2 separate regions of the Homo sapiens genome follow, and region 1 is linked to region 2. The links come from fine-mapping of genetic effects on plasma protein levels. A gene starts in region 2. The other region holds a variant in brackets. All regions are shown on one strand. Distances are between the middles of the regions. Region 1 overlaps DPT (dermatopontin). Region 2 holds the start of DPT (dermatopontin).

Evidence for each region. PIP is the posterior inclusion probability: the model's chance that the variant is causal. Protein levels are from the aptamer-based SomaScan assay of Sun 2018.
Region 1: its variant is fine-mapped to the plasma level of the DPT protein (Sun 2018, PIP 0.95).

Annotation. Positions count from the first base shown.
Region 1 is chr1:168,700,720-168,717,375 of GRCh38, reverse strand. It overlaps DPT (dermatopontin), which reads left to right. Exons shown (of 4, transcript NM_001937.5): 2 at 3,030-3,155; 3 at 16,252-16,359. Among named protein-coding and RNA genes, the nearest start is that of DPT, 20 kb to the left of the region's middle. The variant C/GC (reference allele first, on the strand shown) is at 7,065.
Region 2 is chr1:168,722,987-168,739,642 of GRCh38, reverse strand. It overlaps DPT (dermatopontin), which reads left to right and starts at 10,437. Exons shown (of 4, transcript NM_001937.5): 1 at 10,437-10,773. The coding sequence starts at 10,469.

The DNA of each region.
Region 1 (16,656 bases), 22 kb after region 2:
TATGACCAGACACTTCTCAAAAGAAGACATTTATGTGGCCAACAAACATATGAAAAAAAGCTCAACCTCACTGATCATTAGAGAAATGCAAATCAAAACCACAATAAGATACCATCTCATGCCAGTCAAAATGGTGTTTATTAAAAAGCCAAGAACCAACAGATGCTGGCGAGGCTGTGAAGAAATAGGAATTCTTTTACACTGTTGGTCGGAATGTAAATTAGTTCAACCATTGTAGAAGGCAATGTGGTGATTCCTCAAGGATCTAGAACAAGAAATACCATTTGACCCAACAATCCCATTAATGGGTATATACCCAAAGGACTATAAATTATTCTACTGTAAAGACACATGCACAGGTATGTTTACTGCAGCACTATTTGCAATAACAAAGACATGGAACCAACCCAAATGCCCATCCGTGATAGACTGGATAAAGCAAATGTGGTACATATACACCATGGAATACTATGTAGCCATAAAAATGAATGAGATCATGTCCTTTGCAGGGACATGGATGAAGCTAGAAGCCATCATCCTCAGCAAACTAACACAGGAACAGAAAACCAAACAGTGAATGCTCTCACTCATAAGTGGAAGTTGAACAATGAGAACACATTGACACAGGGAGGGGAACAACACACACTGGGACCAGTCGGGGGTAGAGTGTGAGGAGAGGGAGAGCATTAGGACAAATAGCTAATGCATGCGGGCCTTAAAACCTAGATGACAGGTTGATAGGTGCAGCAAACCACAATGGCACACATATACCTATGTAATAAACCTGTACATTCTGTACTTGTATCCCGGAACTTAAAGTAAAATAAAAGAAAATTGTAAAACCTAGATACATGTATAATAAACTACACAGTTGCACATACCAAAAAAAAAAAGCTAGATCATCAAAGAGCCATAGGTCTCAATTTACACCTTAACCTGCATTACTGAGCCCCTATAGCTGAGTTTTCTAGTCTGCCAGAACTTCTTACAAGTCCTGGGAACAGGGAATTCAAGCTAATTTACATGGTTGACCGAATACCGAGCCCATCTCTCAATTCTTCTCACAACATAATAGCAAAGTGATTGATACAGAACAGTAGTAGAGTATGAGATGTTTAATAAATGAATGAATAAATAAATAAATAAATAAATGCATATTTGAATTATATACATTAGGTGAATAAATGAATAACAAGTAATAAATAATAAATTTAAAAGGACGGATGATTTCTGATGACAGACAAGTAATATATTTAATATCTAATTTTGTTAGATCTGCAAGTTCATTTTCAGCAATGGAAAAGAATAAATGAAATCCACTTGTTGATAATGTTACAATTTGTGTGTCAACAAGGCCTCTCTCACCAGTCAGCACACGGTACTTACTTTATGCATTATATTTTCTGAAAACTTATCTTCCCATGAAATACAAGGTTGCATTCCAGCAGCTGTCTGGCCATGCACATAGACAACTGCCTGCTCTGGCTCTGCCCACTCATAAGAGGGGATAGACCAATGGCTGGGATGGTGGGAAATGCAAAGAAGGAGAGGTAACTGAAGAACTATTTTGGAAGGGTTTGTGAAAGAGCTCATGCTATAAGGTGGAAATCCACTGGATTTCATCAAAGGGCCATGGCTCACCATACCCATCTGGGCTTTGCATGCTGTGTGGGGGCAGAACAAATGATCATCCTTGTGCTCAATTTCCAGGGCTCTGCTGTTAAGCAGAAGAAATGTTTATTTGAAATTCGTCAATACATTGTGCTTCTCTTTGTCTTCTTTTTATTTTAAATTCCAGTAAAATGAATTATAATATCTTTTATTTTAAATGACATGCATAATACAATCTTGAATTTGTAAAATTCTAGATGTAAAATTCTAGATCCTGGATAAGTAGCAAGAACAGTGGAAATGCCCTGACTGTGTAGAGCTTATGGTCTTGTGGGTGGTGGAAAGATTCCTGGATAAGTAGCAAGAACAGTGGAAATCCACTGTGGTCAGGTAGAAAATAGTGTTATCATCACAGCAAAAAGTGGGAAGCCTGAAGACGCCATAGGAATTGGGCCCAGGAATGGGAGAAAATCATACTAGAGATGGAACAAAGGAAGAAATGATTGTACTATTCTAAGTCAATGTTTAGTTCAAAAGGTGCTGTGAAGACCAGCAGCAGCACAGGTAGAATGAAAGAGCAAAAATTATTTCTTGTCTGTGGACTGGAGTGGAGCGGTTATATATTTGAAGAATTAGGACTAAGCAGCTAGGACAGGAAAGGGATCTTTAGAGGGGGTTTGAGGCATTCAGTTGGCCTGTTGCAACTCTGTAAGGACTGCCTCCACAGCCAGGATTCTTGGTGGCCACCAGGAATAGAATTCTGAGAAAAACATGCCATGGCTGTGTAGAGCTTATGGTCTTGTGGGTGGTAGAAAGATTCCTGGATAAGTAGGAAGAATCTGGGTTGTGGTCCCAGCTTTCCTACTGGGCTGCCCTGGGCACATTCACCATGCCCATCTGGGCTTTGCATGCTGTGCAGGGGCAGAACGAATGATCATCCTTGTGCTCAATTTCCAGGGCTCTTCTCTTAGGCAGAAGAAATGTTTATTTGAAATTCATCAATACGTTGTGCTTCTCTTTGTCTTCTTTTTATTTTAAATTCCAGTAAAATGAATTATAATACCTTTTATTTTAAATGGCATGAATAATACAATCTCGAATTTGTAAAATTCTAGATGTAAAATTCTAGATCCACCCATTTATGCAGGCTTCCATCTAACAATATATATTGAAAGAGGTATGACAGGGGCAGTGTTCCCTAAATTTTGTTCAGTTAGAAAATTCTGAGTCACTTAAATTTTAATGGAGGGGCTATGTTATTTCTACAAATATAATAAAGACTATTATTTGCATAAAATGGAATAAATTGTTAAGAATCTAGGTCAGAGAAAGAGTGTGTAACTGTGGCAGTGGGGTCTTGGGAAGGGGTCTGTGTATGTGTCACTGTTCTTAGGTTCCTGGGGTTGTCTTCTCTTCAGGTACCAGACGTGCTCCAACAATGGGCTGGTGGCAGGATTCCAGAGCCGCTACTTCGAGTCAGTGCTGGATCGGGAGTGGCAGTTTTACTGTTGTCGCTACAGCAAGAGGTGCCCATATTCCTGCTGGTGAGTCTGGCAGCCGACCAAACCCTCATGACTCCTGGGGTGGGAGAGGCACCTAGGAAGTGCTCTAGCTTCAGGTAAGCTTGAGGGTCACACACAAGCCTGGAAGGCAGCGCTGGCATATAGACAAGAATGAATGAATGACTTAGGAGGATGTTCCCGCCAAGAGGGATCTTTCAGGTTATCCAACCCCCCACATCCTTCTTTTGGCAGAAAAGGAAACAGAACCATAGAGCCGGCACTGACTGGCCCAAAGTCACCCACCTACTCTGTGGGAATGCCAAGTCTTAAGCTTAGGCCTAATGACTCCCATCCCAGTGCTGTTCTCCTTCTCCCCAACTTCTGGTAACTTCTCATCATATCCAAGGCTGCAGGGCCTATTTGGGAACCTAGTTTCCTGTAGTCTTTCTCTGGGAGAAACCAATCCTCTCATGGGTCAGAGTCTAGTACATAGTTATAGACAGAAAAAATAAAATATTAAAAAATTAAAAAATTAAAAAAAAAGATTGTGCTGTTTTCTGGATCCATTTGGAATTCCAGCCTCTGATGTTTTGTTTCTTTCCCTATCCCTGGGCTCATGCCGAATATCTCCTGACCTAGCCTTCCAATTGACTAGGAGAATGTGTATATTGTCATTTGCCCTGATGACTTACACTGGGTGTTGATAACACAACCGGCCCAGGTTTTTTTAATCTGAAAATGAGCCAGGCATTTCTGCCTTGGGCAAGGGGATCCAGAAGTGTCAACATGTGAAGGTTGGCTCCCTCAAGTGATTGATCTCTCTACAGTTTGATGCTTGCAAGGACAGCTTCACAGGTCATGCTTATTCTCTGCAATCAGACAGCTTACTCCACAGATGCCCAGTGGCACACAGTATCTCTAGGGATACAAAGCCCCAAAAGCTTAACGTTTTTCTTTTTAAAGTAAGGACCGATAGTAAATTCAGAGCTCAAAGTCACCTGTCACTGTATGATGGAGCAGAAACCTCCTCTAGTTCTTCAAAATCGCTTCCATAAAGCAGCTTTTACTCCTCTACAGTGGGTGAACAGGCCTGGCAAAGGATTACGATGCCACTGGGATAGGTCCTGAACCAAAGACCTAAAGATCTCTTGCAGTGGAGGAGGTAGAAGGAGCACCAGTTTGGGCAAAAAGAAACTTGAGTTTCAGTCTCTGTGTTGGCCTTTCCTCACTTCCCTCCCTTCTTTCCCCTTTCCCCTTCTCCCCTCCCTCTCATAACTCTGCAGGCTCAAGCACATCACCTAAAATGATGACCACCTTTTTTGAGTCTCCAAGATCTTTAAGACTCTGATGAAAACTATAGACCTTGTCTTCAGGGGGGAAAATGCACTTAGCATGTTAATACAATAGTTTGCAGAGAATTTCGGGAGTCCTTAAACTCCCTGAAGGCCATTCATGAACACACTGCCAAGAACCCCTGGATCATAAGTTGAAATTCCAAGGACTAGAAGATCTTTCAGGTTGTGTTGAACCCTAAAAATGTCTTAATTCCAAAGACACTTTTGGAAAAGATGATCCAGATGCCAGAACTGTTTTGAGAGGATGAAGGAAGTTCCAAAGACGAGTGCGCCCTAATGAAAGGGGAGAGTAGGTAGGAGCTTGGCCTCCACAAATCTCTCATTCCTGGTCTATTAACAGAATGGCACTTCCCACAAGGAAACCAGCCTCCCTTTGTTGCAAAGCATTAAAAGCCAGTTAAAATGTATGTAAATTACCTGAAAGAGCAAGCAAAACCTAATACTCAGTCAGTGAATTTATTTACTACATTAGTATAACTTTCCCTGAATCAGACTCCAAAGGAACACATCAGGGCTGGGGTATGCTGGGTGGCCAGGAGGAGTGGGTTCAGGAGCAGGGGAAAGAGTGAGGAGGTGAGGAGGTAGCCCTGCACGGGCTGCAGTGGGGAGGAAGGGGAACATGGACAGCCTAGGGGCAGCTGGAGGCCTGGATGTTGGTGGCTCTGTCTCTCTGCCCTTCGTAGATGCCTCTGTCACAGCACTTTATGCATTTTACCACCTGTGTACAGTTGCTCCTCTCTACCTGGACTTCCAGTGTCTGGAGGATATGGGGCCACTCACTGATCTTTGTATTTTCAATGCCCAGTATAGTGCTTGGAACATAGTGTCTTCTTAACAACTGTTGAACAAATATCCACATTAATAATTGTGGAGGGTGTATATAATGTGAAGTGGCCCAGAAAATATAATTCTCTTACATAAAATTTTTTGTTCTCTCCCCCATCCCTCCACTTCTGCCCAGAATATAAGCTCTACACAAGCAGAGATCTTTGTGCTGACATATGCCAAGCCCTATAAATAATGACAGGCACATAACATTTGTTTGGATGAAGGAATGACTTCAGGCTACTTTTTGTTATGAGCATTAAATAAGATAATATATTTCTGGCCTTGCCACTGTCTATGATCACACAGAGCTGACCTGTCTTGAAACAGAGTCCCCTTCACCCTCCCAGATGCAGGAGAGACCCAGCCTCCTCACCAACTAACAGGACATTCAAAGGCAAACTCTGCCCAGGAACAACCTAGCAGGTGTCAGGTCATTGCAGGAAGCAGAACTTGAGAGCGGGGTTGGTTATGCAGAGGAACAAGACATGTGACCAGTTGGACAGTCTGTTGTTAGATGTACTAACTCATTCTTCCCCAGGCAGAGAGGAGTAAGCTGAGGCAGCAACATTCCTCATCACAGCAAGGCTCGAGGTCTCTGCAGAGATGAGTGGGAGAGCCTGCTGTGTCTGTGGCCATGCCATCATGGTTGGCTGGCCCCTGCCCAAACAGAACAACAACAGATAGTGGGCTTGGGCCTCAAGGCTTTGGGTGACCAGGCAGGCAAGGAGCTAAGGCTCACTGGTTTTAGAAAATTTGTCAAGGCCGGGCATGGTGGCTCACACTTGTAATCCCAGCACTTTGGGAGGCCGAAGTGGGCAGATCACAAGGTCAGGAGATCGAGACCATGCTGGCTAACATGATGAAACCCCGTTCTCTACTAAAAATACAAAAAAAAAAAAAAATTAGCCAGGCTTGGTGGCAGGCACCTGTAGTCCCTGCTACTCAGGAGGCTGAGGCAGGAGAATGGCATGAACCCAGGAGGTGGAGCTCGCAGTGAGCCGAGATCACGCCACTGCACTCCAGCCTGGGCGACAGAGCAAGACTCTGACTCAAAAAAAAAGAAGAAGAAGAAAAAAAAAAGCAAAGTTGTCAAACAGAAGAAATAGGGGGTGGATGAAGGTAAGTGTGAGAGAAAGGGATAAACATCTAAATTTTCCTGGAATTCCCATATTCCGTGGATCTGTGGGATCTGTGTTAACACTCTGAGCATTGCTTCTTGAAGCTTATCCTGTCTGTTTATTTGAATGCTGAGACCTGAAAAAGACAGGTCTTTGTGTTTCCAGTTCCACCGTTGTTTTAATGATGCCCCAGATTTCCAGTGGTCACCTGGAGACTGGTTCCAGGATACTTCTGCTTCCCCAAGAATGCTAGGTATCGTTCCTCTCACATACTTTAGAAAGGCTTCTCAAGCTCCCTTAGATGCAATTCACCAGCTAAGATGCTAAAAATGTAATGATCATATAGACATATATGTAGGAACAAAGTCTCAATGTTAAAGATTGATAGATAAAGATGAGCAATTTTGAGTTGCCAGAGATATTCATGTCTCTGCTCACAAAGTTTACCCAAAGCCTTGATCTGCAATGACTTTGCCACTCTGAACCCACCCCAACCCCCATACCCTTTACCCTTCCTTACCCCATCCTACCATCCAGACATGTTGCTGTTGGTCTGTGGAGCCAAAAGGTGGGGAAAGTACAGAGAATTAATCCAAAAGGCATGACAAGTCAACTTTGAAACAAGTCCCACTAAGGTGTGGTTCCACCTG[C/GC]TGGTTCTATTTCTGAAGGCATGGTGTTAGAGCTGAGAGCTATCACGGTCACCAAATAAAATGGTATTTTTTCAAAGAAAACATTGGAGAAGCAGCAGAACAAGATTCAAGTGTGCACCATGGTACACAGTGTATGACTCACTATCCCGCTGGTGTGTCTAGACATTTTAGTGGCATCTTTAAATTGCCTGAGTCATGATGTTGTATTATATGTCTTTCTAAATGCCTCCAGGGCATAAATTAGGTCTTATTTTTTCAACATCTCCAGGATATTACCCAGCACAAAATAGACTCTTAATAAATGTGTCAGATGAATAACTGAATGTTGCAAGCCCCTAGGAACAGTAACAATGGTGAAACCTGACATTGATGTGATGATGTTTTATAGTTGACAAAGACTTCTTTCATGTACATTATTTTATTTGATCCTTTTAACAGCCTTACAGAGTGAAGTGAGAACTCTTTTTCCTGCACCTTCCCACAGTGAAATGCTGATAACCCTCTTATCTGAAACCTTCCCTTACATGACTTTAATTAGCTTGAATTACCTCCCAGGGAACTGGACCCATGTGGGTGGGAACGACATTTTTCCCCTTCCCTCTTTGAAAGGCATTCTTCAGCACGCAGCCTGACACCGTATGAACTAGCTAAGTGAATATCTAGCGCCTGCGTTTGTGAGCACTTAGGGATTCAGAAATATCATCACTCTGGGCTGGAAAAAACAAATCATCCAACCAACTCCCAAATGAGTATGAGATTTATTTGTTTGGTGGGAACCAAGGTGCTGCTCTCGTTTCAGCTTGTGCGGTTTCTCTTTGGATATTACAGCCTCACTGGACTCTGGCAAGAAAGCAAATTCCTGAGAGATGTGGACATGCCATTAGGAAATGGTCTCCACTGGATTGGATGAATAGTGAATTTTATAGATATTTATTTAGATATGAAAATTCTAATTCTTAGTCTAGTGGTCTGCAAACCACAAACACATGTCACTGAAGTTGCCACAACCCTTTAGACATTGTTTGTCATAATCTCTCTTCTCCAAACAGCTCAGCAGCTGCAGGCTGCACACCAGACTGTCTACTGTCCAGGCGGAGACTCTGTGTCCCAGGATCTGATGGTTGTGAATCATTTTCTTTTCCAAATGGCTCTTCTCCAGACCCATGGCCTTTCATTAGGTTCATTGGATAATATCTTTTGACTGTAAAATAATGCATCCATTTAGGTAACCTTTACTTTTCTCTTCAACCCTGATATTCTGTCTCTCAGACTTTGCATTCTCCACTGCCTACTTCCCCACTCTCTGTGTGCAAGTCATAAGCCAGAGAGTGCTTTTTTTAAATTCCTGTATAGCTCTAGTTAACATCAGTTGATTAGAACATTCTTATCTCTCCCACCCCAAAGCACCCAGTCAAAGCTAATCTTTAATTCTTAGCCTCTTTGTTCAGATGTTAATACAAGATAGGGAGTGTTTGCATGTTCACTCCTGTAATGCTGTTTTAGGGACATGAACAATCTCACAGGCCTCTGCATTGCTGTGCCTGTCATATGCCACCTGTGCCCAGACAGCCTCCTGCAATTCAGCTCCCAGAGGCCTGGTAAGAAGAGCAGCTTCCATTAGGTATATCTCCTAATGTTAGTTAACAGGTGCAGCACACCAACCTGGCGCATGTATACATATGTAACAAACTGCACATTGTGCACATGTACCCTAGAACTTAAAGTAAAATAAAAAAATAAAAATGAAGAGCAGCTTCCATACTGGTCCTCTGCGCAAGCTGGAAGCTATTACTATAGAGATGGACATACTTAAGTTTTGAGGAAATTGGACTAGATGTCTCAATTTAAAGGAACTTATATTGGGTTTAGATGCTCTGCGCCCTACTAAAACCATTGCCTTCCATTGCATGATGTACATAGCACTCATTGTGCAGACAGCAGCCTCTCTGAACTTGAGCAAAATCTATCATCCCTTTCATCTGCTGGAATGGTTTCCATAATTATTGTGCCATATTTAAAATGTAGACATGTACAATTGGCACTCCATATCTGGGGTTCCCTATCCAAGAATTCAACCAACTTTGAATCAAAAATATTCAGAAAAAAACAATAAAAATAAAAATAACAATACAACAATAAAAAATGATACAAATACAAAACCATATAGTATAATAACTACTCACATAGCATTTGCATTATCTTAGGTATTATACGTAATCTAGAGGTGATTTAAAGTAAACAGGAGGATATTCATAGGTTATGTGCAAATGCTACACCATTTTAGATCAAGGACTTGAGTTTCTGAAAATTTTGGTATCCATGGGGGTCCTGGAATCAATCCCCTGCAGATGCCACTGATGACTGTTGTATTAGTCCATTCTCACACTGCTAATAAAGACATACCCGAGACTGGGTAACTTAACAAAGGAAACAGTTTAATTGACTCACAGTTCCACAGGGCTGGGGAGGCCTCAGGAAACTTACAACCATGGCAGAAGGAGAAGCAAACATGTCCTTCACATGATGGCAGGAAAAAATGCCAAGCAAAAGGGGGAAAAGCCCCTTATAAAACCATCAGATCTCGTGAGAACTCACTCACGATCATGAGAACAGCATGAGAGTGACCGTCCTCTTGATTAAATTACTTCCCACTGGGTCTCTTCCATGACATGTGGGGATTATGGAAACCACAATTCAAGGTGACATTTGGTTGGGGACACAGAGCCAAACCATATCGACTGTATTTGGTGCCTGCATTATAGGTGATACCTCTCTCCTTATGTTCAAACTTCAAAAGCAGAAATATCATAGATGTGTCTGGCTAAGTATTGGTTAACCCAAGGCCAGCTACTTAGAACAAAGTAAACCTCTCAGTTACAAACCAAATCTGATGCTTTATTCTATCTAGTCTGCTTCCCTCTACTATAATAGATTCTAGAGGCAATCATTCTTACTTCTATTTATTAATTCACTTAAGCAGTCAATGAATGTGAATGGATATGAAATAATAACAATTCATAGGCTTTGGGTGAGACCCTACTAATGATAATGATGATAATAATAATATTTATTTATTGACACTTACCACGTGTTCCTGTGTTACTGCATTTAATCCTCACACACAAAAATTATGATACTATCATACAGATGAGGGAACTGAGCTATAGAAGTTGTGGCTCCCTTCAAAGTTCCAAACTTGACTCAACCAGTCTATCTGCCTCCAAATCCCATGCTCTTTGCATAGTACTGAGCTGTCTCTAGATGAGGAATAAGACTTCTACAGGTGAAATATTACATAATAGCACAGTAGGCATCTGGTAGAAAACAGAGAATAAAACTATTTTAATTGGAGGGGAGCTGTTGAAGGTCAAGTAGCCCCCACTGACATGCAGGCCCAGGGTGACCACCACATAATGTGGCTAATGAAAATCAACACGAGTCAAAGTGAATGTGCTTACTGACTAGCCCTGGGCTTGGACAGTGAGTTAGAAACTCAGTTCCAAGAGAGCAATTTGGAAAGTGTTCAGGGACTTTCCTCTACTCATTTAAGCTACAGATATCCCTGGAACTGTTATTCCCTCGTGTTGTGATACATGTCTGAAATGTTTGAAATGTAAAGTCCCAAAATGCCATAAAAGGACAGACATGGACATTTGTTTTTATTTCACACACCTCAGAGCCCCTGGGTTCAGATTTTCTGTGCAGAGAAGGGCACTTGGGTGACTACCAGAGGTCCCGCTTGGCCAATCCCCAGCTCTTGTGGGAAGAAGCCTGGGGATTGTTCTCTGTGGCTGTTTTCCTTTACACATAACTCCATTTGGGGTTTATTTTTTCTGTCTTTACAAAACTAATTCAAAGGGGGTCTGATGTAGCTCCTAATAAAGACAAACTAAATTAATCTGAAATATGTTCATTCCTTATAGCTTACTTGGAAAAGCATTATGCAAGAGGATTGATCATGAACAGACTGGCTTTATTTAACAAACTTCTCAATGATTTGACTGTCAGAAAGGGACATCTTTTTAGCTGAATATATAAAACGTAAGCCAACCTCAACACACCAAATCCGCAAATGTTGAGTTTCTCCTCCAAACCCACCTCTGAACCAGATCATAAAAGCATATTTGATTCCATGCACCAGTGATCCCTCAAAGAGCTCACTATATTGGCCATCATGATGTTATACAGTATTCTATTATCTTGCTAAATATATAGTGCTGATGTATTAGTCCATTTTCATGTTGCTGATAAAGACATACCCGAGACTGGGCAATTTACAAAAGAAAGAGGTTTAATGGAGAACTCACAGTTCCATGGCTGAGGAAGCCTCACAATCATGGTGGAAGGCAAGGAGGAGCAAGCCACATCTTATGTGGATGGCAGCAGGCAGAAAGAGAGCTTGTGCAGGGAAACTCTCATTTTTAAAACCATCAGCTCTCATGTGACTTATTCACTAGTATGAGAACAACACAGGAAAGACCTGCCCAAAGGTTCAATTACCTCCCACTGGATCCCTCTCACAACATCTGAGAATTCAAAATGAGATTTGGGTGAGACACAGCCAAACTGTATCAGCTGACATGTCACAGGACATTTGAATGGGATATTTAAAGTAATGTGCTAATTGAGTGGTAGAGAAATAGAAGAAAAACAGAATTCAATATTGAATGACCAACAGAAGCTTCTCTAAAATGTTGTTTGAGCATAAGCTGGGCTATAAAAGATCATTTGGAAGACATTCTAATTTTATTCTTATTTTTTAAAAAGCTGAAGTATGGCTTCCTCAGGTACCCGTTCTGATCTGTTCATATGTAAATGCTGGGGTTTTTTTCCAGTTTTTATGGTAGGGAGTCTGTGGTGTGTGCTTTTCTGGTGTCCCCACAAAGTGGGCCAAGGTTGGGGATATGATGTTTCCTGACCATGAGATGAAGCTGTATCTGTTCATGTGCACATCAATTGGAGGGAAAGTCCTGAAAGAGGAGCTTCCAGGTGACACCGACTAATCCAGTTGCCCTAATTTCCCCAAGTGAAACAGCTGTAACAAACACATCTCAGTGCTATGAAGTTTGACTTTCATAGAAGAAAAGTGTCTAGCTCCGAATAAGGTCTCGTAGAGGTGGGTTTTCACAAAACCTTACGCTGAGTCACTTTATGTCAAGGAATAGATTGAAAATCTTTACTTTAACTATTAAAAACCTAATAAGTTCTCAACCCAACCTCTGACAATGAATAAAATTGGCCACTGTATATAACTAGATTGTATCTCTATTTCCCTTTCTAAAATGGATGTGAGAGCGTATACCTGGACTCAGCTCTGCAATATGTCTGTTCTTGTGGCAACGGAGCCGAGACATCTATCAGCAGCAGCTCAGTCTATGATATTGTATCATAGCAAACATTCATTGAGTCCAGTTGGATCTGTTAATAATTTTAGAGCTTCAAGAATCTTAGATGAGAAAAATCCTATATCAATCTTAAAATTGTCTTCAGTTCGAACTGATTTCCCTCAGCTCATAAGTAAAATATTATTAATTTTTTTACCATCAGCTTCAGCTGACACAAGAGTTGTGCAAGTGGCTTTATGTTATCAAGTTTTTTCTTAGCTTTGGAACAACTCTCTGTCTTTCATCTTGACAGCAGAAAAAGTGCTGTGAAGTGAGAAACTGTACCACAAGAGTCATTCATCTGAAAGTGCGCATGCACACACACACACACACCCCACACACACACCAGTAGTTTTGCTTTTTTTGTTGTTGTTGTTGTTTGAGACGGAGTCTCGCTCTGTCGCCCGGGCTGGAGTGCAGTGGCGCGATCTCAGCTCACTGCAAGCTCCGCCTCCCGGGTTCACGCCATTCTCCTGCACAGCAGTAGTTTTTATTAAAAATTAAGTAATAGCTAAAATTGAATAAATCTATTCAAACACTTTACTTTAGGGGAAAGGAGAAAATAAGGCTTCCCATAGAAATGTTTGAAAAGTAGACTCATTTCAATAAAGGCATCTTCCTGACCTGCGCTCTTCTTCATCTTGCCAAGCTGAAGGTTTGTTTGATTGTTTTAATTGGTCTAGGAATGTATGGCAATGCTCAGTATGAAGTGTGTTTTTCCAAAAAACTGCTTAAAGTGACCTAGTAATTCACAAGGAATTCACAAGGAAGCTGCAACCACACCGAACTCTTCCCCGACCTACACTCGCAAAGCCCAGTGTCACAGCTTAGGAAACCCTGATCATTCTGCTTCCTTGTAGCCTCTTTTAATTTCCTGAAAAGTCCCTATGCCCTGTCTCAGTGTCTAGTTCTGAACGTTTAAATTCTTTTTTCTCTCTAAGGAGCTATTACTGGGCTTTCACTTATTAGGACACTTTGTGCGCGTGTGTGTGTGTGCGCGTGCACATGCAGTGTCATCAAGCGCTAAATGCAGCCACATATATCTGGTTTGAAAATACAGAACACAGCATCCTGGGCCACATTGACTCAATAGTTCTTCCTATGGATGGTGTTTGGGAGGTTCACTTTCTACCAGTGATTTGGGTCATTTCTCCCTTGGTATTTTTATTTCATAAAGTAGGAGAGATTTCCATCGATATCCAACCTCCTTCCCTCTCCTCCTTTACCCAGGTTTCTCTAGGACAGTCTAAACTCAATCCCATGGTGTTATAACAAAAACAAGACAAAATAACAACAACCAAAAGTCACACAAAACAAAACCTGTCTGGGACCAAGAAGAAAAAGTACCAATGGTCATGCACCTCACCTTCTCTAGGACATTCTAGAAATTCACTGGACATCAGTACCTCATGGAGAGGCTTCTCGGACAAACTGTCCAGTTAGACAGGGGGCTTATGTCTGGTCACTACCAAAAATGAAGCAACAGAGAATCCTAATTAAAGAAAGCATGAAATAACATTTTCCTTCTTTGAAGCTTAAAACTTCTTGATGTTTTTAAAGGTAAGCTTTTCTTTCCCACTTTATTCCGTGATATTTATCCAAGTATCTGAAGACAGATCAGAGTGGTCAGTAAAAACTTAAAAAATAAAAATCTAGCTTCATAATTTCCAAATACTTTTGGCAATTGGATTTAGCTTAATGCAGTGTTGCTGTATGTAGATTCTGCCTTAGCAAAAAAAAGAAAAAACACACAACTTGGTAATTAATTTTTACACATTGTATCCAGAGATGCTTCAAAAGTTTTAGAAAATATTTTTTGTTCCCTGAAGTAAGGAAAACACACACCCCCTCCCACCCCCATGCAACCTCTTATTCTAATTTGCATTATTGATGTTCTCAACAAACCTCTCTTTCCTTGGGTTAACTTTAATACAGTCCTTGTTAGAATTCTCATGGATCATAAATCAGTGGGATCCAAGTAAGGCCCTATTAGTTCTACTTATAAGACATTTACCATGCTGGGCGCAGTGGCTCATACATGTAATCCCGGCACTTTGGGAGGCTGAGGCGGGTGGATCACTTAAGGTCAGGAGTTCCAGACCAGCCTGGCCAACATGGTGAAACCCCGTCCCTATTAAAAATACAAAAATTAGCTGGGTGTGGTGGCACACACCTGTAATCCCAGCTACCTGGGACACTGAGGCAGGAGAATCACTTGAACCCAGGAGGCGGAAGTTGCAGTGAGCCGAGATTGCACCAGTGTGCAACAGCCTGGGTGACAGAGTGAGACTTGGTCTCAAAAAAAAAAAAAAAAAGACATTTACCTGAAAGGTAAAGTCCTGCTTCTGGATCTCTTTAGAAGCACAAAATAAGTTTCTGGATTTGCAGGACCTTATTTCCCTTCATGAACTCGTTAAGCAAAAACACAGGTACCTCACTTTGGGTTGGACTTGGCATCCTGATAGAGCATAATTACGTCTTAGGAAAAGTCAAATCAGAGAACAAGGGTTAGTGAATAATGGGTAAAAGGAATGATTATGAACCAAGAGAATGAGCTAACCATTGATCTTTCTCCATCTGTGCACTGAGATCCTCCTAGGAGCCCTTACAGTTTATAAATCAATCTTTTCATGATTTAATGACAATCTTGGAGAAAGATCACCATCAGTCTGCAGAGGAGAAGATCTTTCTAGCATTAATAAACAGTGATCTGGTAAACCCAAATCAGATGAAATTATTGACACTCACAAACTAGTTGTTTTCCAAGCGTCCCTGGGGTGTGGATAAAGACTTTGGAGGAGCTATTTCATGGTAAAAGGACTGTTTTGGTCCTGAAGGTTCCAGTGGCAAAGCCCTTATGAGAACTGGGGGATTCTAGACTTTATTCCAGGATGGACTACCATGGACCTACTCATATGAAGGCTCAGGATTTACTCAATATTGGAAGAGAAGGAAAGGAAAGGAGGAAGAGGAAGAAGAAACAAAATAGTTCTTAGTGATTCAACACCTACCATGTACTAGTATAGCACACTCATCACTCATTTTTATTAGTTCCAATGACAAACCTATAAGGTAGACTTTATTCTTCTACAGATCAGAAAACAGATTCATTGACTTTCCCCAGGCCATATATTTATTCAGCTAATATTTATTATGTATGTGTTTTAGGTGCTGGATGAACAATGGTGGACAAGGCAAAAACTCTACCTTTGGGGAGCTTACATTTTAATTAAATAATTTTTGAACACTTTGTTGACTATAACTCACAATAAGAAACATTAAACTATCGCAATATGTACATCTTATAAACAAACACACATATATATTTGAAACAAAATGTTTACATACATAGACTCGTCCTTACTGCATGTGATGCATGCTTTTATATTTTCTTTTCTATTTTATGTCTCTTTTAAAGCCAATTAAATTGATTTTGTTATCAACTAATGAATCATAATCTAAAATTTGAAAACATTGTCTTAGTTGACTTGAATAGAATAGGAATAGTATTGATATTAATCAATATCAAGAATTCCAAAGTTATTTTGATAATTCCAAAGCCTGGGGAGGTATCTTCATCTTTTTCAGTGCACAGTTTAATGGCCTAGAAAAGGAAGATGAGAAGTGGGAGGAGAGCTGTCTGTTTCTTCACAGCCTGGAGTTGTTTGGTGGATGTCATTTAACTTCAGTCTGGATTTGCCAGGATGCTCAAACTCCATCTCTTCTTCATAGTGTGTCTTCTGTTTGCTCCCAGCAATAATAATGTGTTTCATTTTCCTCTAACCTTTGTTCTTCCTGCATAGGCTAACAACAGAATATCCAGGTCACTATGGTGAGGAAATGGACATGATTTCCTACAATTATGATTACTATATCCGAGGAGCAACAACCACTTTCTCTGCAGTGGAAAGGTGAGAAAGACAGCCCCTTCCCAATGGGCTAGGGTTAAAGGAGTTGGGACTAACTCCCTGCAAGGATTTTACCTGCAGGAATTTATAAACACACACACACACACACACCCACACACACACACACACGTAGAATACAAGTGAAAATTTCTTACATGCACATATATTTCTGCAGGAACTTTGACCTGAGGTTTTACTTATCTTAGTTTCCTACCTGGTCAAGGATTAACTGCAGTTTTGGCTGGAAAATGGGAGGCAGTGGGAAGTGAGCTGTTCTCATGAGCTCACCTCATGGAGCTG
Region 2 (16,656 bases):
ATTTTTAATAAAAATTTTGTAGAGACAGGTTCTTGCTCTGTTATCCAGTCTCCTCTTGAACTCCTGACCTCAAGAGATACTCCTGCCTCAGTCTCCCAAAGTGCTGGGACTACAAACATAAGCCACCATGCCTGGCCAAAAACTGTACTTTCTGAGCTACTTCCTGATCTAAATTTCATATCTTGGGAGGCATCGGATAAACAGAATTCACCTCTTGATCCTTAAGGTAGATCCTTATGAGGTCAAAAGACTGCATGTGACCTCACAGGTCATTTGGTCCAGTCTCCTGATTTCAGTGAACAGACATATGAAAAATATTTATTGAATGTCTGCAATGCAGCAGACACAGTACTAATACCCTGAAGAAACAACAGTATGTAAAATCAGGCACAGGACTGGCCCTCTTGGAACTTATAGTCTAGTATGGGGAATCAGATGTTATCAAATAATTATACAAATACATAGAAAATTGTGATTGGAATAAGGGCTCTGAGGGGGTTTATGCAGTCCTGTGAGAGTGTGGGGAATTTTCTGATCTGATACAACCCTGAGAGGTTCTTCATTTTGAGAGCACAAGCTTTGTTTTATAACAGGCTTCAAAACAGATCTTCTCTACCAGCTGGATAACCCTGGGCAATTTTCTCTCTAAGCATCATCGCCCTCACTTGTAAAATCGAGAGGATGTGTCTTTCAAAGAGTATGGAGATGACATTCAATATAGTGGATATAAAAGTTTGTACCACAGTTAGACCTACTGATGTAAGCATGCAGGTTGGCAAGATCTCACTTTCCTTTGCTCAGGAGGATCTCCAGGCCCAGGGACAACATGGCCTAGTGGGAAGCCTGACACACACATAAGGACAAATCAGAGGGATTCCCAGTTGATTTTCAGGAGAAGGGTTACCTTTGACTTCCTGAAGGGAAATGGTTACAGAGGTGTTTGGATGGAATGATATTAGAGTTAAGGGTAGAAAAATGGTGGAAGTGGTGCTGGCTTTGCATTGAAGAGGGAAGCACATGGATGCTTCCCAACATCACACAGCTGGGGAGGACTTTCTTCTCCCCATGAGCACCTAAGGACCACAAGAAACTGGAGACAGATGCCCAGTGCTGGAGACAGTCATATTGTTTCAGGATCTTCCTTGGATCAAATCCAGACAGTTGTTCCTTATATCAGTCAGGTCCTGGCAGGAAACAGGTCCATATTCAACAGTAGTGACTGGAGAGAATTAATGAAATAACTATGTACAGAGATGTGAGCAGGGTTAATTGTGAACATCCCAGGGCCAGCTACAGCTATAAACCACGGTAAGATCACCCCTATAGTCTTAAAGCTGCAGGGTGAGGGAGTGAGGTTGCTGGAACCTAGCAGAAGCATTTCCCTTGGAAAGGGGGCCAGCCAGCAAAAGCTAAGGCTGCATGGAGAGAAACCTGGCCACTGCCAACCAGGCCTTGGTGGCAGGGAGCCAGGGGAATTCATATTTTGACCCCTCTCCTGATCCTTCCATATTCTGCTGGTGCCTCTCATTGGCCAAGCCCAAGCAGGAACCAGAGGGCAAGAGAGCACCTTAAGGTAGCACATAAAGCCTCCTAGAACACAGTGCAGGAAAGAGAAAGATCTGAAAAGTAAATAGGGAATATTCAGTACATCCCCTTGCAAAATGACATCTGATTGTTTTTTGTACCAGCAGTACCAGGCTCTGTTCCAAGCACGGTACATTTACATGTATTGTCTCATTTAGTTTTCCTGATAAATTAAAGTATGTGCATTTCTATTTGAGTGCATGTGCACGTGCATATACTCTGCAGGGCTTTAGCAACACAGCAAAGATGCCATAGCCCCGTTGGTGTCTTTTTCGGCTAAGCCAACCCACTGCTGTAGAGAGTTGAATTATTTTGGTAGTTGTTAATATTGCAGCATTTTAAAAAGCTGGGGTAGAAAATAGTACTCATTAGTGTGCAGCGTGCTCAGCTCCAGGCTGTTGACAGGCATGAGAAGAAGGCTGAGCTGCTGCCTTTCCTGCAGTTCTCAGTTCTGCTCTGTCACTGCCTGTGTGGGTGGTGTGTGACAGGAGGCAAGTGGTGGGCTCCCTGAGAGCAGGATTAGGGTGCAAAGCCCTTAGCAGAGCCCACAGGCCACAGAGCCAGGGGAGTATTTCTACTGTAACCAACGACAGGGTAGTTGGCAGAGGAGCCCTGCCTGGTTCTGCCTCATACTTGGGAAGCTTACAAAATCATAAACATCCTTATGCACCTTAGCCTGTGGTTTTACACTTCGGGATGCATAAAAGTCATGTGGGAAAGCTCGTTAAAAAGGCAGATTCCGCCTGGGCGCAGTGGCTCATGCCTGTAATCCCAGCACTTTGGGAGGCCAAGGCAGGCAGATCATGAGGTCAAGAGATGAAGACCATCCTGGCCAACATGGTGAAACCTCATCTCTACTAAAAATGCAAGAATTAGCTGGGCATGGTGGCGCGCCTGTAGTCCCAGCTACTCGGGAGGCTGAGGCAGGAGAATTGCCTGAACTGGGAGGCGGAGGTTGCAGTGAGCCGAGATCACGCCACTGCACTCCAGCCTGGTGACAGAGCAAGACTCCGTCTAAAAAAAAATGGCAGCTTCCGGGACCCCACCTCCAGGATTCCACTGAAGCAAGGCTGTCAAAAACTCAGGAATCTTCCTCTAACATGCCTCCATGGCTGTGATGCAGGTGGTCTGTGGACCTCACATGTATCAATACTTTGGGGTGGGTGTGTGTTTTTAGAGCTGGGAGAGACAGTATGCTTCTTAGGTGACCAAGTCCATTATCTGAAGTTGATGTACCGTGATTGAACAATGCCGAAAAGAGGTGCCAATCTGTAGCTTCAGGAATGGGAGCAAGAATGCGTGAATCTTGGTTAAAGAGCAAGCCGAGCTTGATCAGAGGAAGCAGCACACAGAAAACGCACTGGAGGACGGCACCAGCAGAGATGTCCTGTATGGGAGGATGTTATTTTCAGGGAGGCTGCTCCTCCTGCTAAAGCCCTGCCCCCACCACCTGCCTTCAGGATTGTAGGAGGGAAAGGCTTGGACAAACTGTGTGAACTGGCAAAGTGCTCTAGAATTGGCCACCTTGCTTCCCTAAAGGATGTGTCACCAAATCCCTCAATGCCGTGTCCTCCAAGAGAACTGGCAGGGCTCAAACTAGGGAACTTTGGCTTATGCCCAAGCCCTGTCACCCAATATTTCTGTAACTTTGGACATCACTGTACCTCTCAAAGCCTCTATTTCCAAACTGATAAAATGGAAATAAGAAAGCCAACTTTACTACCATCACCAATGCAAAGATGAACTGAGATCTGTTAAATCCCTGCACATGGAAAAGAATAAATATTTATTGAGTGCTGGATTGTGTGGTTTATATACATCGTGCCAAATGCTACACAAATGAAAGGGGCTGTTATTTATTTTATAAACTTTAGGTTTACCCACTTAAAAACCCAATTTCAAATTAGAAAATTTGGCTTAAAATGACATCACTTAAGCACTTTCTGATTAAATTGTTTTCTTTCTTTTCCCCCGTTTGTAACCAAATCTCTCCAATGAACCTCCTCCCGCGCTTTTTTTTAACCATGGTCTCTAGCGAGTCATGAGCTCAGAGGTTGTAACCAGTATCCTGAACTCTGTTCCTCCACTTATGAGCATATAATACATTTACTAAAGCAATATTTCCAGCACCTACACATACATCTCTGTGCTTCATTCATCCTCACAGACCCCAGAACACTAATTAGGCACTTGGGCCCTGAAGCTTCCTTCTGTGAGTGTCTCAGAGCTAACTTGGCTTAGCAGCACCCCATCCCCATCCCCATCCCTACTCTCACCCCAAGACACAGTCCTGGTTCCCAAGCTCGCAAGTTCCCAAGCTTCTTCTCCACCACGATAGCTCCTCCATCTGCCTACTGTTCCCAAGCCTCCTGAATTCTCTACCCTCACTCTGCCTTTAGTGCTCAGCCCTGTTATCCTGACACCTCTCCCTGCAAACTCACTCTCAGGAACCTCTGCGATTGACATTCATCCACATATTAATGGAACTCCAGAGAGTGGTGGAGCCATATTCCCCCAGCTTTACTCATTCCCAAACCCCTCCAGTCATCATCTGCACAAGAACACTCTTCTGCCCTGCGGAGTCCTGGGGCTGTTCATTACACTAATATGCATGATTGTTCCCTCAACTCCAGCTTCTAGTGTTACCCTGAGGTCAGACTAACAACGTACATTTGTTTCAAGCTTTACACTTGACAAAGTCTTTGCAAGACCACTATTTGATATGACTGTCACAATAATCTCGTGGTAAGTGGCTGGTGTTGTGATTATCCTCCATTTTACAGATGATAAAACAAAGGTTATGGGTTTTGTCTGATTCAGTGGTTCTCAACCAGAGATGATTTTTCCCTCCAGGAGACATTTAGCAATGTCTGGAACATTTTTGATTGTCACAGTGGTGGAAGAGAAGATGCTACTGGCATCTAGTGGATAGAGGCCAGGGATGCTGTCCAACATCCTATAATACACAGGGCAGCCAGCCTCCACAACAAAAAACTATCTGACCCAAATCAAAAGGTCATTTTGATTACTTGCAGAACCAGAACTTTAACTTAGATATTTGGATTTTAGGAGTCTCTGCTCTTCTCACAACCATCTGCCACTGCTCTGAGGCCCTGCTGTGACCATTTGGCACTTGGGGTAGTATAGTTACTAACAAATTCAAGTCACCTTTCTGTACTAGCTGTGAAAATTGGGGTGAGCTACCAGTGATCTCTGAACCTAATTTTCTTAGAACTGCTGGAAGGTCAATTGGTCTATCATATGTAAAGCACATAGTACAGTATTTAGCACACAGTAGGTGCACCTTATTCTACTCCTCCCAATCTTCTCTATTTCCTCAACTTGGATTGTCACTCTTTCTCCTGCTGCTTCCAGTATGAGCATTTTTAACCTTATTGGTGGCCCTCGGGGCTAACCCCAAATGATATGACAGTGGGTTCCACAAATGATCTTAAAAAGCAATGGGTCATGCAAGGGTGGCAAGTTTGCTGAAGGTGAGGACAGCCTGGGTGTACTGAGGCTATTGAATGCCTCTCTCAGCTAAACCGTGAAACTGGCACAGACTCATTTTGGAGGAAAGCCACGGATGGCTCAGCATACACTTGCTGGGAAGTTTGTGATAGTACTCTGGCCACCTAGAGCTGCAGCCAAGTCCTGATTATACACAGGAGTTAAAAGGGAAAAAAGACAGCAGGCAAAATGGAATCCTCCAATAACTCACAGTCAATATTTTGGGTTAAGCATCCATTCATCTGGGGCTACCAGCTTCACCCAGGCACTAGCATGAGCCTTGCCTTCTCCTGTCTGAGCAGCCCTCCTCGGGGCCAGCACGTCACATCTGGAATTCTCCAGTGGATCAGGTCTGCTCCAGGGTGACCTCTGTAAGTCTACATCATTCCCTCCCAATATACAATAGCAGCTACCCCAATCCAGAAAGTGTAAAAGTAACTTAGGAATGAGTTGATTCTAGGGCCATTCTAGGTGCTCTCAATTAAAATCGGGCAAAGTATTATATTCAGAATCTCTCAAAAAGGGATTATATGTTTGAGAAAGCTGCCAGACAGGAGTGGATCCAGGTCGCAAAAAGTGTCACCAGAGTGGCTATGAGTTCCTACACCTTTCAGAAGAACCCAGACTTAATAAGCGTTGGTGAGGATGTGGAGAAGAAATTGGAGCTCTCATACGCTGCTGGTAAGAATGTAAAATGGCACGATTGCTTTGGAAAACAGTTTGGCAGGTCATTAAAAGATTAAACACAAAATTACCGTATAACCCAGCAATTCCACTCCTGAGTATATACCTGAGAGAAATGAAAACATATGTCCACACATATACTTCTACATACATGTTTGTAGCAACACTGTTCATAATAGCCAAAAAGTGGAAACAACTCAAATGTCCATCAACTTGTAAATGGATAAATAATATATGGTAGATGTATACTGTAGAGTATTATCTGGCATTATAAAGAAATGAACTAGTGATACATGCTGCAAAATGGATGAACCTTATGAACCGCTAACATAAAACCTATGCTAAATGAAAGAACCTATTCATGAAAGACCACATATTGAATGATTCTATTCATACGAAATATCCAGAACAGACAAATCCATAGAGACACAAAGTAGATTGATTGTTGCCTAGGGCTAAAGGATGAAGGGAAATGGAGAGCGACTACTGATGTGTTCAGGGTTTCTTGGGTGGTTAAAATATTCTAAAATTGCTTGCGGTGGTGGTTGCATAAACTCTGTGAACATACTAATTTAAGGGATATATTGAATTATATACCTTAAGTGGTGAATTGTATGGTATGTTAATTATATCTCAATACAGCCGAAGAAGGAGGAGGATAAGGAGAGAGAAAAGAAGAATAAGAGGTAGAAGAAAAAGAAGAATCATGGAGACTTTTGAATGCTCTTTGTCAGAATCTCCAAAATATCTCAAGTCCATTATCTACTAGGAGGTAAGATAGCCCAGTGGTGAATTGTGTGGGCGCCAGAATCAAAATTAGTGAACTGAGTTATCTAGGCTTCAGTATCACTACATAACTTCTCGAGAAGTGACACCTGGAATTTGGGTAGAGTGTTCTGCATTATCTGCTATACGGTAATTCTCACTTTAGTGAGTATCAAGTTACCTAAAGGGCTTGTTCAAACACACATTGCCGGGCTCTACTCCTACAGTGTCTGATTCAGTAGGTCTGAGAGGGGCCGGAGGATTTGCATTTCTAACAAGTTCCCAGGTGACGCTGATGCTGTTGGTTTTAGAGCAACACCCCAAAAACTACTTATTGAACATTTAGTTCTTTAAAGTCCCCAGGGTCTATTGAGTAGACTTTTCAAATAACAGCAGAAATGCGTAGCGCAAATTAGTTATATGTGTATGTTAATATACATACTTTATAAGTGCATTATTTGACAATTATTCATAAATGTTATAATTAGTAACTGTAACTTTGATGAAATGATGGAAGGCATTGCAGAATGGGAATCAGAAGACATGGGGTCATATCCTTCCAGTTCTAGAAATTTGGCCCAAAATGTTCTCTCACCACAGTTTCCCCATCTGTGAGAAACTAATTCCAATAATGCCTCACTAACATATAAAGTTATGAGGAAGATAACATAGTAACCTAGTTGAAAACACATGGTCAACTGTAAATGCATTAATCTTATGTTCTCAATGTCTGCGTATGGAAATCATTCTCTATGCGGCCACCAGAATCTCTCTCAAAGGCATCAGCAGTTTCTGGAATCTCCTGAGACACTGGATGAGTTAGGTTGCTTTCAGCTTTAAGTAACAGAAATCTATATTAAAACTGGACCATAGCATGAAGATATTTATTTTTGCACATTAAAGGGAATCCAGCTGAGGTAGTTCTAGCTGTAGTTGAAAGAAATCTGCGGAGAGTGGAGATCAGGCAGAGGCCCTGGAAATTGTTGGAAAACAAATGTATAATAAAGATGAGTGTTTATGATAATCTGCTTTGTCTCTTAGAGCTCTTTAAGGTTTAAAATAGCTCATATCATGTCCAGAATGCAAGATACAACTCATGAGCATCAGGATGATAAACTGAAAAAATTAAAAAAAAAAAAAAACCCTCTAGCATAGAGGTTCTCAACCCTGGCTTCCGGTGAGAAGCCTATAGGGAAGGTTTCAAAGGACGTCATTGTCAGGACCCTGCTCAGAAGCTTCTGATCTGATTGGTCCAGAAATTGCTTAGACTCTGGAGGTTTCCAAAAGCTTTCCAGGTAATCCTTAAATGCTGATAAGGTGGAGAATGATTGCTTCAGCATATCATGAATCAGAGAGATCCTTCTAAGCTAGGAAGAATTCCGATGCCAGCACTGGGCAGTTACTTACGGATGGAAGTGGTGGGAGAAGATGGTGCTAAAAACAAAACTAAGCCTCACATAGCTGTTCAGCCCAGATCCTCTCCCCCTCGCTTCAGTAACCATGATCATCAAAGAAAACTGCATGCCCAACACACACACAAACACACACACACACACACACACACACGAGTTACTTGTTGCTTTATTCTCATGTATGACTGTCTTTCCCTTTCAAGACTATCTTGGTGTTTGATCTAGACTGAATACCGTCTGGTAAATGTGCCACAGGCTAGGCAGATGGTGGGATTAATAGTGTGATTTTTCTCTGGCTCCACATTCCTTTAGGAAGGTGACTCTTAGCAATTGATGTGAATAAGAATCACCTGGAAAATTTTTTAAAATATAAATACCTGAGCACCCCTTGTGAGGTTATGATTTAGCAGGCCTGGAGAAGAGCCACTGTCTACATTTTAACAAACTTCACAGAGGCTGTAGATAGAATTGGTCTATGATCACAATTCTAAGAAACTTTAAGAACAATACTGATGAGAAATGGGAAATACTATGTGCTTAAGAGATGCCCAAAGGTTTCAAAAAATTTGAAAAGCCAAATCATCAACGGATGCATGGAATGGGTAATGAGCACATGAAAAGATGCTCAAAATCATGGATCATTAGAGAAATGAAAATCACAACCACACTGAAATATCACTACAAACCTATTTGAATAGCTAAAATTTTTTAATGGCAATTTTCTGGTAGTGGTGGGCAATGGTATCACCACTTTGGAAATCAGCTAGGTAGTTTCTTGCTTTCTTTTTTTTGTTTTTTTGAGACGGAGTCTCGCTCTGTAGCCCAGGCTGGAGTGCAGTGGCACAATCTCGGCTCACTGCAAGCTCCGCTTCTCGGGTTCACGCCATTCTCCTGTCTCAGCCTCCCGAGTAGCTGGGACTACAGGCGCCCGCCACTAAGCCTGGCTAATTTTTTGTATTTTTAGTAGAGGCGGGGTTTCACCATGTTAGCCAGGATGGTCTCGATCTCCTGACCTCGTGATCCGCCCGCCTCGGCCTCCTAAAGTGCTGGGATTACAAGCATGAGCCACCACACCCGGCCTCAGTAGTTTCTTTTAAAGTTAAACATACATTACCTTGTGAACCAGCAATCTCACTCCTAGGTATTGACCCAAATGAAATAAAAATTTGTTCACACAAAAACCTATACATAGATGTTTATATCAACTTTATAATTACATTTATGTAATTCATTATATAAAATATAATGAATATAAAATTCATTACATAAAAAGTAATGAATTTTCAAAAACTGGAAACAACCCAAATGTCTTTCAACTAGTAAATGTATAAACAATCTGTGGTACATCCATGCTATGGAATATTACTCAACAATAACAAGAAACAAAATACTAACACATACAATGAGATGTTGAATTTTAAAATGGATGAACCTTAAAAGCATTATGCTAAGTGAAAGATGGACATGAAAGGCTACGTGTGGTATGATTCCATTTACTTGACATTCTGGAAAAGGCAAAACCATAGAGACAGAAAGTAAATCAGTGGTTACCAATGGCTGGGTGTTTGGGAAGATTTGACTGCAAAGGGATATAAGGGGATGTTTTGGATTGATGGAACTGTTCTAAGTCTTGATTAGGGTGCTGGCTATGTTACTGTACATTATGTATTTTAAAAGGTGAATTAATTATATGTAAATTATAACTCAATGAAAAGAAAATTCAATGTGAGGGCAAAAATACTGAAGGATAAATAGGGGGTTTATTTAGATTAAACCCATTACATTTTGAGAGCAGAGCACACTTTCTAGACTTGACTGGGTCCAATTTCAGCAGCATGGTAGAATGCTTAAGTGTAGAAATCATATCCAACTTATCTCCCCATGGGCCCATAGTACTTCCTTATGCAACTTATGAGTTCTCAGAGTAGCCCTGCAAACTGGTATACCCGCGCTTATACTCAAGGGTTAAAAAGTGTTGGATTGACAACTTAAAAAAAAAAACAGGCATTCAGCCTTACAGAAATCCTAGATGGCTCTGTTACTTCAGTCTATGATTTCGGTATTTTGAAATCACTGTCTGGGTATTTGTGTGGCCCGGAAGGCTAGTTTGGAGAACAAATACAGGGGTTTGCTAGTAGCGGGTAGGGTAGGACAGAAAGGGGTGAGGTGCTGAAAGGTGAGGGACAAATATGCTACTAATCAGTGTTTTTCAAGTGAATATTTCTACAGGGTAGAGCAGCAGTTGGCTTTTATAATCTAGATACAAAGTTGTTCTTTCTCCAGGGAGCTTCTTAGACTTACATGCTGCTGGTATATTCCTAGAATTCCACCTTAAAACAAGCTGAATGTCCTTATGGCTGACATCTCAGCATGGAAAAGTTTTGCTTAAGCAATGACACACTGCAGTTGGATCCTTCTCACCCACATCTGGAAGCCACATGTCAGCGGCAGCTATATAAAACGGTCAGACCAGCAATCTTAGAGTGACATTGTTTGCCAAAATCCCAGGCAGCATGGACCTCAGTCTTCTCTGGGTACTTCTGCCCCTAGTCACCATGGCCTGGGGCCAGTATGGCGATTATGGATACCCATACCAGCAGTATCATGACTACAGCGATGATGGGTGGGTGAATTTGAACCGGCAAGGCTTCAGCTACCAGTGTCCCCAGGGGCAGGTGATAGTGGCCGTGAGGAGCATCTTCAGCAAGAAGGAAGGTTCTGACAGACAATGGAACTACGCCTGCATGCCCACGCCACAGAGCCTCGGGGAACCCACGGAGTGCTGGTGGGAGGAGATCAACAGGGCTGGCATGGAATGGTAAGGGCCAGTCCCTGCACTGCACTGGGGCTGGGAACATCTCTGCATATCCCTCCTCCTGGGGGCTGCTAGACTCTCAAGGAATATCAGTAACCAAAGCCTGGGCAAATCCCACCCCAAACCTCACCACTGCATGCTCTGGGTGGAGCAGGGCTGCTGCTGAGCGGACTACATGACAGGACAAAAACCTGGGATGGGGAGTGTCTGTGGGAGACAGACTCCTCTGTGGCTCTGTTCCTTCCAGAAGCTGTTCTACCTACTCTCAGTTTGGGCCAGGGGCTGGTGTAGGTCGGCGAGAAGCTTGCTTACCAGACTACCAAAAGATATGTACAGAAACTGAAAGTAATAAACTTTATAGAAATTAAAACTTTCTGTGCCATCGGAATGGCATTTTTCTTTTTTAGAAATTTATTTTTACCATTTTACAAAAGTACTGGCCCACAGTAGTTTGGGAACAAGAAAAATAAACAATTGATCTCTCAGCACGGAGGGTTTGAGAACTATTGATTTAGAGCAAGTGAATGGAAAAGAGGGGACAAGGACATTTAGGCAAAAGAAAGTGGAATTAAATAGCTGTCTACTGCCTTGATTAAATGTGCTCTCTCAATTATGAGTACTGAGGTCCTTCTCTCTGCCTGAATTTAAAGTGGGTTTTATTGCTGGAAAATAGTTTACTAAAGGGTTTTGGAGAGAGGTGCTGTCTTCCCCTGACTGCATTCTGCCTTAAGCAGTGGCATGGAATTTTTTCGAGCTTGTACTTTTTTGTGGGGTGTGATTGTCTCAGCTGGGTCTCAGCCCAGGTGCTTGGTCAGGAGCTCATCCTAGTAGGCACTGACTGCTAGGCTGATTATTTACAACAGCCTAGATGGAGCCAGCACTCTAGGAGGCTTGGAGGAGAGAACGGAGGAGGCAGTCCAGGGAGGAGGAAGCCCACCTGGAGGGCTGCTGCATGTGCTATCTGTAGAGCAACCCAGATGTGTGGCAACAAGTACTTAGTGTAGTGGGGATTGGAGGGGTCAAGCACAAAATCTGGCCAGGTGTGGTGGCTCACGCCTGTAATCCCAAACACTTTGGGAGGCTGGGGAGGGAGGATCACTTGAGATCAAGAGTTCGAGACCAGCCTAGGGAACACAGCCAGACCCTATCTCTACAGAAAAAAAAAAATTAGCCCGGTGTAGTTGCATGCAGCCTGTGGTCCCAGCTACTCAGGAGGCTAAGGTAGGAGGATCACTTGAGCCCAGGGAGTCGAGGCTGCAGTGAGCCATGCTCGCACCACTGTATTCCCTCCTGGGTGGCAGAGCAAGACTCTGCCTCAAAAAAAAAAAAAAAAGAAAATAGAAAAAAGAAAAAGCATAGAACCCTGGGGGACACAACCAGTAGAGAGGTGATGATGGGAAATCCAAGAGGAAGAAACACCGATGGGTGGGGGAGCCAGGAAAGAGAGCGGGCCTTTAAGTAATGACAACAGCTACCATTTATTGAGTGCTTACCCTGAGCAGGCTCCATGCTAAGTGCTTTATGTGGATCATCTCGTGTAATGCTCAAAACAAGGGTATATCCCATTTATAGGTAGACAAACTGCAGTCTAGAGATCCAGTATTTCCTCGGCTAGAAAGCTGGGGTTTGGATCCACAGAGTCTTTGCTTCAAAGAGTTTGTACTTTGCCACAGTGACGGGCTCCTGAGAGGCTGCTGCCTCCACCCAGAGTGGGCTCCCACCCGACAGCTGACTCTGTCAGCAGAGCCAGTGCCACAGGACCAGATTCAGGGCAGTTCTTCCTCCTGGAGAGGGTGGGGACCTGCAAGACCACAGCAGAAGCCCAGCCCCAGAGGGATGATCCCTACTTGGTTACCAGGACTGTGGAGGGGCTCAGCCGGACTGTAGAAGGGGTGGGGAGAGGACTCACACAGGCAGCAGCAGGTGAGGGTGCCGGGGCTGTGGAGGCTGCTTGGACAGCCTTTGTGGGCCATTCTCATCCACCCCCATGGCCTCTGGTGAGCAGATTTAGTTATTCAAAACCCCTTCTGACAGATGCTGATTCAGAGACCAGGCTCACCTTGATTGTTGTCTCCATGACTCCTCACAGCCAGGCCCACTGCCTAATGTGGAGCATGGCAATGACCTAATTACAACTGTCCCTCCAGTCCTCACCTCTCAGGAGCACTATCGCATGGGTGCGACTCCTTTCTAACAGCCGTTTTTTGTGCCACAGTCAAGCAGCACTCAGCCATGGTTCCCCAAGCCATAGAGGAAGAGCCCTAGGCTCTGAATCAGGAGGCCTGGGTCTGGATCCTGGTTCTAATGACTTGTGGTGTGACCTTGGCCCAGACGCTCAGCCCTCCAGTCTCCCGCCTCATTTGGAAAGTGAGCAGTCAGGCTGCATGATCTCTGAAGGCTCCACAGAGCTGTGGCTCACCCCTGAAAACACTCTTGGCTTTTTCTTGCATTCTGTTGATCTTTGTGTTCATCCCTGCTAGAGAGAGAAGCCAAATGATGTTTAGTTTTAAACTTGCCAACTGTGACTGGTTTGTCATGAACTCCCAAACTATTTGAAGAAAAGCAAAAGAGGAAGAAGGTGAAATAACATGATTTTATTTGGCCCATGGGAGTCAAGGGAAAAGCTGATAGGCGAGATACCTCTTCCACCTCCTCTTACTCGGCATTTTTGGGTGTGCAGTGTCTAGTAATTTTGGTTTCCTTTCCTCCTTCCACCCTCTGTTGCCTCCTTCTCCCCGTCTACTAATCACAGGGTTGAAAACTCACAAACATGCAAAACAACTTCTTTACAATAAGATCCAGCTGCCCCAGGACTGACACGAATTACCCTGGAAGCACTTTTAAAAATGATTATGCCTTTGAGTTCAGCCTCCAGTCTCAGTGAAAAATCTGTAAGGAAAGAAATTGCTTATGGGCTGGGGAGCTATTACATCTGACGTTGGCTACAGGCTTAGTCTGTTCTCAGGGAACAGTTGTTGATGGTTTTGTGCAGTTGGGCTGCCTTGTATAACCAAATTAGCTTTCAGGTTTATTTTAAAAGAGGGGAGGAGTCTCGAATATAGGCTTGACAATAGCACATAGGATCTGCTAAAAAGAAAATCTTTCTAATCAAAGTGCCATCTTTAAAAGGTGTTGCCATCATAGCTGAGTGGTCTGTGGTGCTGCCATTGATCACAGTTTCTCTGTTGAAAATCACCTCTTCAAGTGCCGGCTTCTGAAGTTTGGATGATGGTCTCTGGCACTAACAACTACCAGGAGGCCTTACCTGGGTCCCCATGAGTGGTATTTCACCATCCCAGGGCATGCCTAGGTTGTTCTCAGGGAATCTGCTCTAACTTGGGTCAGCACAGGCTGTAGGGCACTGGGTCCTGTGTGGAATAAGATGAAGGTGAAATTTTCTAGTGAGATTGAGCTACTGTGTAGCGGAAGGAGCCCTGGGCTTGGATGCAGGAAACCTGGATTCACAGCTCCTGCTTGTATCTGTGACATTCGGTATCTCATTCTGGCAAAAAAGAAAGAGAAGAAAGAAAGAAAGAGAGAGAGAGAAGGAAGGGAGGGAGGGAGGAAGGAAGGATTGAAGGAAGGAAGGAAAGAAGGAAGGAAGAAAGGAAGGGAAAGAGAAAGGAAAGGAAAGGAAAGGAAAGGAAAGGAAAGGAATGGAAAGGAAAGAAAAGCAAAGGAAGAAAAAGGAAGGTGTGACTCCCACCTCACAAGCTGCTACTTGTGTTACTGTGATACTTGTAGGATAAAGTATAAGAAAACTCTAAAGCAAATTGAAGTCTAAAACAAATGCCTAGCACATCATGGGCAGGTAGTAAAAGTTTAGTGAATCTGAAATTGATGTGGCTGATGTTGGGCAAGCCAGCTTTCCACGGAGTCTGAGTTCAGAGGAAAAGTGGTCCATTTATTGGTATCTACTTTTTACCCCGGGCTTCAAAGAATCTCAAGGAGAAGTTTTGGAGTGGCAGTTTGTGTTAGAGCTGAGTTTATGAATTCAATGACAAGCCACAGACTGGAGAAGAGGAGAAAGAATCTATGCAACAGGGCTATGGCAGCATCGAGGTGCATTTGAAGGTGGAGAGGTTGGGTGGGAACTCCGTTTTCCATGGTCGGACTATTTCCCTAATCTAAGCAAGACCAAGCCTCAGTGTAGTTCAGGGCAGTCGTCCTGAGTCATGGTTCTGAGTATTGAGTACTCACAGGGCCCACTTCCTCGGGGATGCTTTCCAAGACCACCTCCTCTCCCCACACATCTCGCTGTCTCCACTCCCTCAGCCTGCTTTGTTTCCTACAATGCCCTTGTCACTACCTGATTGGCATTTGTTTCTTGTTTTGTCTCCCTCACTAAAATATAAGCTTCATGAACACAGGGGCTTTGTCTCATTCACCACTGTATCCCCAGTGCCTAGACAAGTGCTGGTACATAACAGGCCCTCAATACATATGCAGTGAAAGACCAAATCAGCAGTCCAAACCCCAGCCAGTGTCCCCACGGCCCTCCGCAAGGAGGCCTGCAGGTTTTCCCACAGGGGAACCATTTTGCTTATGTCTTTGATTCCCAATATTCCAGTGTCTATAGTAGGGGTTCCAACTGTATTGTTCACATCTCATTTTGATTTATTGCATTTACCAACATGCAGGATGGTCTTTCAAGATTTCTTAAGGATCGCTAAAACATGCACAGAGGATGGCTGACACACTTTGCCGCCGCAGAATGAAGTTTTTATCAGGTTTTCATTCTCTCAATAATCTTAAGGTCTCGATCAATTTCAAAAATTGAAAGTAAACTCTTTATTTCAAAAGCCATAAGGGCTAAATGCTGCACAGTAACCTATCCTGGTTTGACATTTGTGGAAGAACTGATGAAATCAGTTTGGTGTTATACCAAGGTTAATTTCTTAGCATTTCTTAGCATTCCTAGACACTCTAGAGTTATGAAAATTAACATTAGAGGAACCTGGGTGAAGAGTATACATGAATTTTGTGTGCTGTCTTTACAAGCATTCTGTAAATCTGAAATTACTTCAAAATAAAATTTAAAAAAATAAATATAAGGATGCAGCACAAATATAGTACAACAGAATCGTGGAATTCCAGCACTGGAGGGGGTCTTGGGCACAATCTAGAGCAACCTCCTTACCTCACAGAATAGGAATAAAGGCCATGAGACTGAAGCAATTAAAAACTGAATAAAAACATTGCTGTCAGGTTAGGAACTGTCATCCTCTTTTTACAAAAGTAGATATAAATATCAGTAGAAGGGGAGAGATGGGTCATGGAGCAATTCTGTTTGGAATTAGGAGAGAAATCCATAACTTTACATAAGTATAGGTTCTATGGCCCTAACCCTGATCTACGTGGTGATTTATGATTTATAGAGTATTCCTCATTTATATGTTCATTTGTTTATTCATTCACTACCAAATGCTTATTAGCACAAACTTTCCCAGGCCCCAGGAAGATGGAGATGAATAACATACAGTCTATGCCCATGAGTTATTCAAAAGCTAATATTGTTTGATCTTCACAACAGTATTGGAATCCAGGTGTTTCACACATGAGGAGGTTGCCCTTGCATGGCTAGCAGATGGCAGACGGAGGACCTGAGCCAGCCAGCCTGATTCCACAGTGCTGTGGGTGATATGAAATGCTGATGTTATTTTTGTTCCTGGATAAAGCCATAGTGAGTGCTGACCTAAAAAAGATATCAAATCCACCTAAGGATGACTTCTGAGGGCAAGAAGGCTGAGTGTGGGAGAATAGGGTTATGACAGATCTAGGATTCTTGCCAACTTTCCATCTAGGTCACTCTCCTAAGTGCTAGGAATCAATTGTCTGGGGGAACTTGAGCTCTGCAAAAATGGTTGTTGGCTGCTCTTGTAAGGA